2 separate regions of the Homo sapiens genome follow, and region 2 is linked to region 1. The links come from fine-mapping of genetic effects on gene expression. A gene starts in region 1. The other region holds a variant in brackets. All regions are shown on one strand. Distances are between the middles of the regions.

What was found. PIP is the estimated chance that this variant, and not a neighbour inherited with it, causes the effect. A credible set is the group of variants that fine-mapping cannot tell apart.
Region 2: its variant is the best candidate, but not a certain one, in a credible set for the expression of FAM216B in monocytes (Quach 2016, PIP 0.90).

What each region holds. Positions count from the first base shown.
Region 1 is chr13:42,778,956-42,783,362 of GRCh38, forward strand. FAM216B (family with sequence similarity 216 member B) reads left to right here and starts at 2,629. Exons shown (of 4, transcript NM_001318932.2): 1 at 2,629-2,709.
Region 2 is chr13:42,832,565-42,836,971 of GRCh38, forward strand. No RefSeq gene overlaps it. Among named protein-coding and RNA genes, the nearest start is that of LINC01050, 22 kb to the left of the region's middle. The variant C/T (reference allele first, on the strand shown) is at 2,142.

The sequences.
Region 1 (4,407 bases):
TGACCAGTGGCTCCTATAGGTTTGGTGTATATGACAGCTTTTGTTTTGGAATCTCAGAAAAGTAGGGGTTTTCTATGAAGAGGTCAAAGAAAAAACAAGATAATTAGGAATAACTAACTCCTCTTCCCCCACCAAAAAATTTGAGCTCAAGGGACTACATAGCTCAATGGGAAATGAAATTCAACCAAGACTCTAGAAGACTAAGTAGAGTCCAGGGGATAAACAGCAGTAGAGTGGGGAGAGGGACACTGCCTTCTCTTCCTTAAGGAGCATGGAGGTCCTCTGAGGGCTTGGATAGTCAAGCAGCATGTCTGTGCCTGGCAGAGACAACCTCACAGACATCTCTGCAGCTAAGAGGATCCTGGCAAAAGGATGTGAGCAGAGCATTTCCTTCCGGGTTCATAGTTTTTCGGGAAAGTGTGTACCTCCATGATGTACAGTGGCACTCTCCCTCTAGCAGGTGGGTTTCTTTGAATTAGAGTTTAACTTCATCTTGGATTCCAATCAGGAGTCCCTCTTCCTCACTTGGTATCACTCATGAGGTCACATTTACCCTGATATTCCATGAAAACACTTTATCACCCACCTTCTAAACAGCCAATGTCTTAAGCAGTGAGTCTCATTGCTGTACCAATATTTTAACTGTGAAATAGTACAACTTTTCTACTAATAGTTGACATTGTATTCCCTATAGTAATTAGATTATGGGTGTTTCTTTCCCATTTTTTTTGTAATCAGTTTAAATCCTTTTTGAAATGTTAAACTAGTCTTTGGGAAAACATTTTTTGTCCCAAACTTAGGATATGCATTACTCCCTCATTCTTATATTTTAAAATATGTCTACAAATTTAGATCTCATTCTTTGATACCATCTACATAGCTAGTTTTATCTTATTTCCTCTTTTCTTATAAATTGACAACTTTCAGTGATGTTAGGTAAACATTGACTGTATGTCTAAGTCCTTCATCCTCCTGCCTGACTTCATAGGTCCCAAAGGTACCTCTTAGATTTGTGTTTGTGTTAGAGAGTGTCCACCATCTGTCGGCCTCATGTTGATTCTTCTATACCCTTCTGTTTATCAGAGTAGTAGGAAGACTGCAAAATACATTTCCCAAAATCCCTTGCTAGCTGGCATCCAATGGAGGGCAGGACATGAATGAAGGCTGGAGGGAAGAAGCCATTTTTTAAAAATACTTTCTGCTTGCACCTGTGGCAGTGCCAGCAGCAGCAGCCACATGGACAGCAACAGTGGTGACAGCAACAGCAAGATTAGCAGTTTGGGCAAGAACATAGAAGCAAGGGTGCCTGGTGAGCACAGGTTCCTGAGGCGCTGCTCAGGCAGCAGTTCTCCAAAGGAAGCAGCCTCTATGGCACAGTGTCCATGGGCTGTGGGTAAAATCATTTTCCCTATTGTCCTCCAGCTCTATGTGCAATCACAGTTTAGTGCAATTGCCAGTCCTTGGATAACCTAACCCTTCTTGTTTTACTCCTCTAACCCATTTCTATATTTTCATAACAGATTCCTTACATTAAATGCCCTCTGTCAAACACAGATCTGTTACTGTTCTCCTGATTGAGTAGCGTCCAAGGCAAGCTGGTAGGAATTTCAGCATGTGTGTGCAACATCAGCAGATGCAGTGCACCCAGAATGAATTTCATCATATCCTGGAAAAACGTTTGAGGAAGACTCGATTGACAATGTCAACTCTGCACACCACTGTTCTTTATCTCTTGGTAAAGAATCATCAACCTCTCAGATCCAGTGAAAGATTTTATGTTATTTACTGGCATTTAAAGACACTTGTTTGTGCTGTGCTTATTTCCCAGGAGGTCTGCATTCAAATTACTGGGGAAAAAATGCAAGACTTTTGCATCTGTTGAGCCCTTTCTTCTTTAAGGCATATGATTCATCACTCTCATCTCCCTGCTTTTTTCTTCCCCTTAGTCTCCTAAGAATTTTGAATGTATTTTCTTTTGATATTTCTTCTTCCCTTTTCTTTAGGAACTCTTCATCTTTGCAGATAAGCTGGCATTCAGAAGGAGGACACTTGAGAAAGAAAGGAAGCCAGTAGAATAATGCTATCACAGAAGAAAGGATGAGGTCAGTGTGGGCTCTAGTCTTACGCCACAGGTTAATTATCATCATATGTAGCCTCTAATTAAGATAAAATATGGAGAATATCTTATTCCCCCACAAAATGAAAGGGAACTTAGCTTAAACTATGGAATAATTTCATAGGTTACCACAGGCAAATTCATGCCCATACCTCTATATTCAGGAACTCTTCCTTCATCATCCTGAGCAATGAGGAAGGGGACTACTGACTCCAAATTTTGGAAATATTTATGTCATGGCCCATTGCCCTGATGGATTTGTTGACCTTTAATATTTAGAATCTCTGCCTCTATGCATGTTACCCCCGATATCTGCATGTAACACAGATATGGTAGATTTAGAAGATGACACTTGATTAGACACAAAATGTGGAAGAAAAAATATCAAACTGTGTAGCTGAATGTTACCCAGAAGTGAAGAAAGGCATGCAGCCAGATTTCCCCAGCTCTTTGTTTCATCACATGATGTTGCTTGGATATCAGCTTATCAACAGACTTCCACCACCACCACCAGCATATAAACAGAGTCCGCGTAAGAAAACTACACTGAATAGGAATGGCAGCTTTTAAAAGTGGGGGAACTACAGTATAGGGTAAGTTCTTTTTAGGCAAATCTGTCTTTTTGTTTCAGATATATTATTTTGTAGATGTTTCTCTCCCTGAATTCCATGAGTATTTTAATCAAATTTTATCAGGTATAGGCCACTTGAATAGGTAAGATAAATTTATTCAGCAGTAGCCCCAGAAAAGCACACATGAATTGTTGCCATAAGAAAGAGCATCAGTCATTTCTTTATGCTATTTGAGGAGAGAAGAAATCTTTCCAGCTTGAAGCATATTTATTCTCTGTTCTACAGATCTGGAAAATGGGAGGAGGGATATTGAAATGATTTGAGTACAGGATAGAGCGTAGGTGTCAATCACAGAGAATATTACAGGAGTATATCTTGGTTGGTATGGTTTCTGGAGTGCACATTAAAGGAAAGCAGTACTGACTAAAATATTTACAGTTTAATTTAGACATTTATATAGCAGAAACAGTACACACAGAGATGTTGACTAATGTTTTCCTAATAAATTTCTCTTCTGGAAGAATGGAACCTTCGATGTGTGAACTCAAATCAGTCTCCACATGTATTACAATACTCCTTAAGCATGTGTATGTTTATGAACCTATGAGTGTGCATGTGTTTGTGTGCATGAACATGCGTGAAGGTCGGGTAGAGAGAGAAGAAACTGGCATAAAGTGAGAGCATTCTATATTCACGATTTCAGTGAATCAAACACCCAGTGAGGTAGGCATTGTAACTGCTGTCTTAAGGATGAGAGGGCTGAGGCTTACAGAAGGAAAGAAACTCAAGTCTTTCTAGTTCTAAAGGCCATACAGCCTCTATTACAGTTTATTTTCTTCAGTTAATATACGTGCAGGTATTAATAATAATCTACGTTTAGCAGATTGTTACTATGTTTGATTTGCTGTGGTCTTACTTTCTATCATTCAGTAATTCACACTGCTAACAAAGACAAAGGAGTAAGCAGAGGGGAAAATACTCTGGGTTTGCACTTTGTGATTTGGCAACCTATTCCAATATGTCTATTCTTGCTGGATTGTTAAATTCATATTATTATACACACTTCAGACTCTAAACCCTAAATCACCAGGAAAGGAGACTTAATCATAGCAAATGTGACTCTATTATTCTGTATCTTTCTCAGGCAAGTGGAAACATGACAAGTTTAATAGTTTTATAGTACAATGCTATAAAATTGCACATCTAAATTGCAAGAAGTGGAGAATGACGTAAAGGCATACTACACTGCCACTAAAAATCATATTTTTAAGGAATATTTAATGATCTGAGAAAGTGCACAAAATGTATAAATTATGATCTCCCTTTTCTAAAATTACACACAATGTACACAGAAAAAAAAAATAAATAAATAAAAGGAAAGTGAAGCTCAGCATGGTGCCTCATACCTGTAATCCCAGCACTTTGGGAGCCTGAGGTGCAGGATAACTTGAGCCCAGGAGTTTGAGACCAGCCCAGGGAACATAGGGAGATCTTATCTCTACTAACAATTTAAAAAATAATTGGGTGTGGGGTGTGTACCTGTAGTCCCAGCTACTCAGGAGGCTGAGGTGGGAGGATGGCTTGAGCCCAGGAGTTCAAGACTGCGGTGAGCTATAGTCGCACCACTGTGCTCCAGCCTGGATGATAGAGTGAGACTCTGTCTCAAAAAAACATATAAATAAATAAACAAATAAAAGGAAATCAACCAAATGCTAACAA
Region 2 (4,407 bases), 54 kb after region 1:
CAGAAACCTATCGACATCCTCTTTCCCATCAACAGGACAGAATTACAAATCTATTTCCAGGGACAGCTCCATCAAACCCACCATCTGTCAATGGGTATTTCATAATTTATTTGGTTTGATTACTAAAGATTCAGGCATTTTTAAAATTAGGAAGTGGGAGAAAAGGATTAGGAGGTCTTCCTGGACTCTTTGTGCTATATTAAAGTATCCTCCTGATATAACGCCGCGGCCTTCAGGCTTTGGAGAAGAGTCAAGTAGCAAATATCCATGTTTTGATCCCGTTCCACAACATCATCCATTCCACTCCAAAGTTCAAGAGCCAAAGGGGTTATAGAAACAATCTGTTTAACTTATGACTCAAAGCAACCGAGACAGGCCAGATCTACAGGCTAGTTGAGTTTTTTCCAAAGCCACTACCCACAAAGATGAGAAGTCCTTCCTGGACTTCCCAGTGATGGTCCAAGCCCTCCCCACCCCCACTTCATGACGCAACACTCTTGGGGATATTCTGTCACGCCACTTATCACAGTGTATTTAAACTTTGTGTGCCTCTTTACTCCAAATGGAATATAATGTCCTCAAGATTAGGGCTTCTGTATCCTTATAACTTCAGTCCTCAGAAGAGTATCCAGCAAAGAGTATACCTGTAATGTTTATGGTGAACAAAACCTGACAGCTTATTGTGATTTTCAACATTAGATTATCCTAACACCATTTCAGAAAATGTAGGCTGTATGCTCTACTTCGCCATGGATGCATACTGCAGTTACATTCATCTCGACAGATTTTCAAAGATTTTTTCAACAACTATTTGCATAACATATTAACATTAATGAGGCATTTTCACATATGTTATGGAATTAATCCTCACAATACCTGTAAGGAAGGTATTATTATTCCCAACTTACAGGTAAGGTAACTGAGGCTAGGAGAGATCAGATGTGGTAGGCAGAATAATAGCCTTCCAGATATATCAGGTCCTAAGCACTAGAACCTGTAAATGTTACTTTATCAGGAAAAGGGTCTTTGCAGATGTGATTAAGTTACGGATCTTGAGATAAGAGATCATTCTGGATTATCTGTTGGGGCCTAAGTGTATTCTTATAAGAGGAAAGTAGAGGGAGAGTTTATACATACACACACACACACAAAGGCATGGCGGCAAACGTTGGCATGGTGCAGCCACAAACATGATCTCTTCCAGAGCTTCCAGGGGAGCACAGCTCTGCTGACATCTCAATTTTGGCCCAGTGGAATCGATTTTGGGACTTCCAGCCTCCAAAACTGTGGAGGAATAAATTTCTGTTGTTTTAAGCCACAAAGTTTGCAGTAATTTGTTACAACAGCCACAGAAAACTAACACAATAAATATAAATGGTCAGCTAGGAAGTAGATGGCATGGCTAACTCCTTCCTATTTCCTCCTTAACATTGAACGTATGTTTGTGTGACATGCCCAGTCCCAAATGAAGCATTTTATATGAATTACATTTTTCAATACTCACAGGTTTGTTAATTAAGATGTAATTGTAATTGTTATACCCATTAAAAATGAAAAAAAATGAAGGTACAAAAAGGTTAAATTATCCACAATAGCTTATACATGCTTTAGTAAGTTATTTGCACATCTGATAACAAATATGCAAAATAACATTTTTAAAGTTTTAACTGTGTTCAATCTCCCTCCCAAATCAGCTTCCCCTCTCCTTGGATTGTCTTTGTATGTCCTACGAAATATCTCCCCCAACTTCAGTGAGACATTATGAAGCACCCACTGCCTTAGGATATTGGGGCAGAGAGAAGAGAACAATGGAGTGAAATTATTTACTGACATGTGACAAGCTAAAGTGCAGGTACAAGATGGTACAAATTTGGAAAAATAGACTCATCAGTCCATGTCCATCAGTCCAGGAAACAATTTCCTGGCTCAGGAGAAGGGGAGAGAGGGATTCCATGGGCAGGAATGGAGGACCATCAGGAGGCTGTTCAGATTTGCTACCTCAGAAGCTTTGTGGTGGCAGAACCAGCGCTCAGGCCACAGCAGTCTGGGCATCACTCACTGACGGACAAGCAGGAGTGAAGCTCATCTGACTTTTGCTAAGTTCTGTCCAACCCACCTGATAAGGACAATCACCTCCCCTC[C/T]CTCTTCAATGACATGGGGCACTTAAGCAACCACAAACAACTAGGAAGGAGGGCAGGGCCTTGACACCCGGAGGGATGGAAGCAATGGCATCCGGAGAGCCCCTAGGACTAACTGAACTGAACCATTTGGTGGTCTACCTTGTGCTTCTCAGGCTCTCCTCCCTCTTACCCTTAACACTGTGGCAATCAGGCAGCAACCCATTAGACCAAGAATGTATCTAATAGTCCCATTGTGCATAGTAAGCTATGGAGGGGCCTGATGCAATTGGGTTTGTCTGTTGGGAATCTGACATAAATAGTGACACTGATTTATTATCAGTGTCTTCTAGATTTCTCCACAATACTCAGAGATTTTTATAATATATTCGGTCTGTTATTTCATCATGCACCATACTGTGGGGGCTTCTTGGGTCATACTGCAGATATTTCTCTTAACTCATTCATCTCTGATAAATGATTCATTAGTAAACCAACGGCAGTCATGGAGCAATGCACACGTTAGGCTTCCTTCCCTTTACCAATGACATAGGTCCCAGTGCCAGGCCTTGTAATGATTTAAGAGCTAGAAAGGGCAAAGCACCAATTACAGTCCATCAGGCTTGGTCCACTGGGTGAGGAGGAACTAGCAAGCTTAACCTTTTACACTTATGCTAACATGTAGGTCACCAGGATCCACTTACTCAAAGACCTTTTCCGAACCACTTCAAAGAATTAACAGCATCTTCCACCATAAGCAAATAGATCTTTTTTTCAATCTACAGAAACAGGCTCAAAGCACATGCACATATATATATATATATTAATATATATAAACATATACATATAATGTTAAAAGTTCTCTTTCATGCGAACATTTGGGGGATTCTTAAAAGAAGGGAAATGGAATAATATTACACAAGATGACAACATTATTAAGGGCGGGCCTCTAAGAGGCTCTCTATTAGGCTAAAATGGTATGGTGTGTCTACGGCCATACCACCCTAAATGCGCCCATTCTTGTCTAAGATGGAATGGTGTTTACAATATATCTTTTATTTAACACCATTCCACAAATACCTTCATCAATTTTATTTCTTTTTTTTTCTTTTCTTTTTTAGAGATAGGGTCTTGCTCTGTCACCCAGGCTAGAGTGCAGTGGTGTGAACGTAGCTCTCTGCAGCCTCAAACTCCTGGGCTCAAGCCATCCTCTTGCCTCAGCCGCCTGAGTAGCTGGGACTACAGGCACATGTTACTATGCCAGGATAATTTTTAATATATATATATATTTTTTTTTAGAGACAGGTTCTCACTACGTTGCCCATTGAGAACTCCTGGTCTCTAGTGATCCTCTTGCCTTGGCTTCCCAAAGTTCTAGAATTGCAGGCATGAGCCACCTCACCAGGCCAGTTTTCTATTGGATATTATATGTTTCGCCCCTGATGAAGCACCAGGGGGAATAAAATTCAATTCGTTTGCCTTACAGAAGTCACTGGTCCCCTACCTGATGCCCACCCAAGGTGAATTTGCCCTGCCATTGTCATGTCTTCTCATTAAATATTCCTCAGGCTGGGCACGGTGGCTCACGTCTGTAAACCTAACACTTTGGGAGGCCAAGGCGGGAAGATCACGTGAGGTCAGGAGTTCAAGACCAGCCTGGCCAACATGGTGAAACCCAGTCTCTACTAAAATACAAAAATTAGCCAGGCGTGATGGCGGGTGCCTGAAATCCCAGCTACTTGGGAGGCTGAGACAGGAGAATCACTTGAACCCGGGAGACAGTGGTTGCAGTGAGCCGAGATCATGCCACTGCACTCCAGCCTGGGCAGCTGAGTTTGACTCCATCTCAAAAAAAAAAAAAAAAAAAAAAAAAAAAAAAAAAAAAATATATATATATATATATATATATATATATATATATCCCTGACACATTAAATCATTCCAAGACACAGACAAGGCCACTAAAATGACCCATCTCTGCCCTTTGGGATCCCACAGCTTACAGCATATGGAATTCATTAAAGTTTGAGTTCATCTACAGGAGCGTCACTGAGCAGAAACCACAAGTAGCACAGAGCAGAGTCAGACTTCACATTAGTACTCTTCCACTCTCACCATGAGAAAACGATGCTCTTTCTCTTTAAAGGCCTCCCAGTTAGCTTGCAAGCCCCTTCTACATTCCTAAGGGTGAATTACCCTTATAATTATTATCAGTATTGAATATTTACTAAGTACCCATACTGGGTGAGATCATGAAGTTGTTTGACACGTATATATGGCAGAAATATTC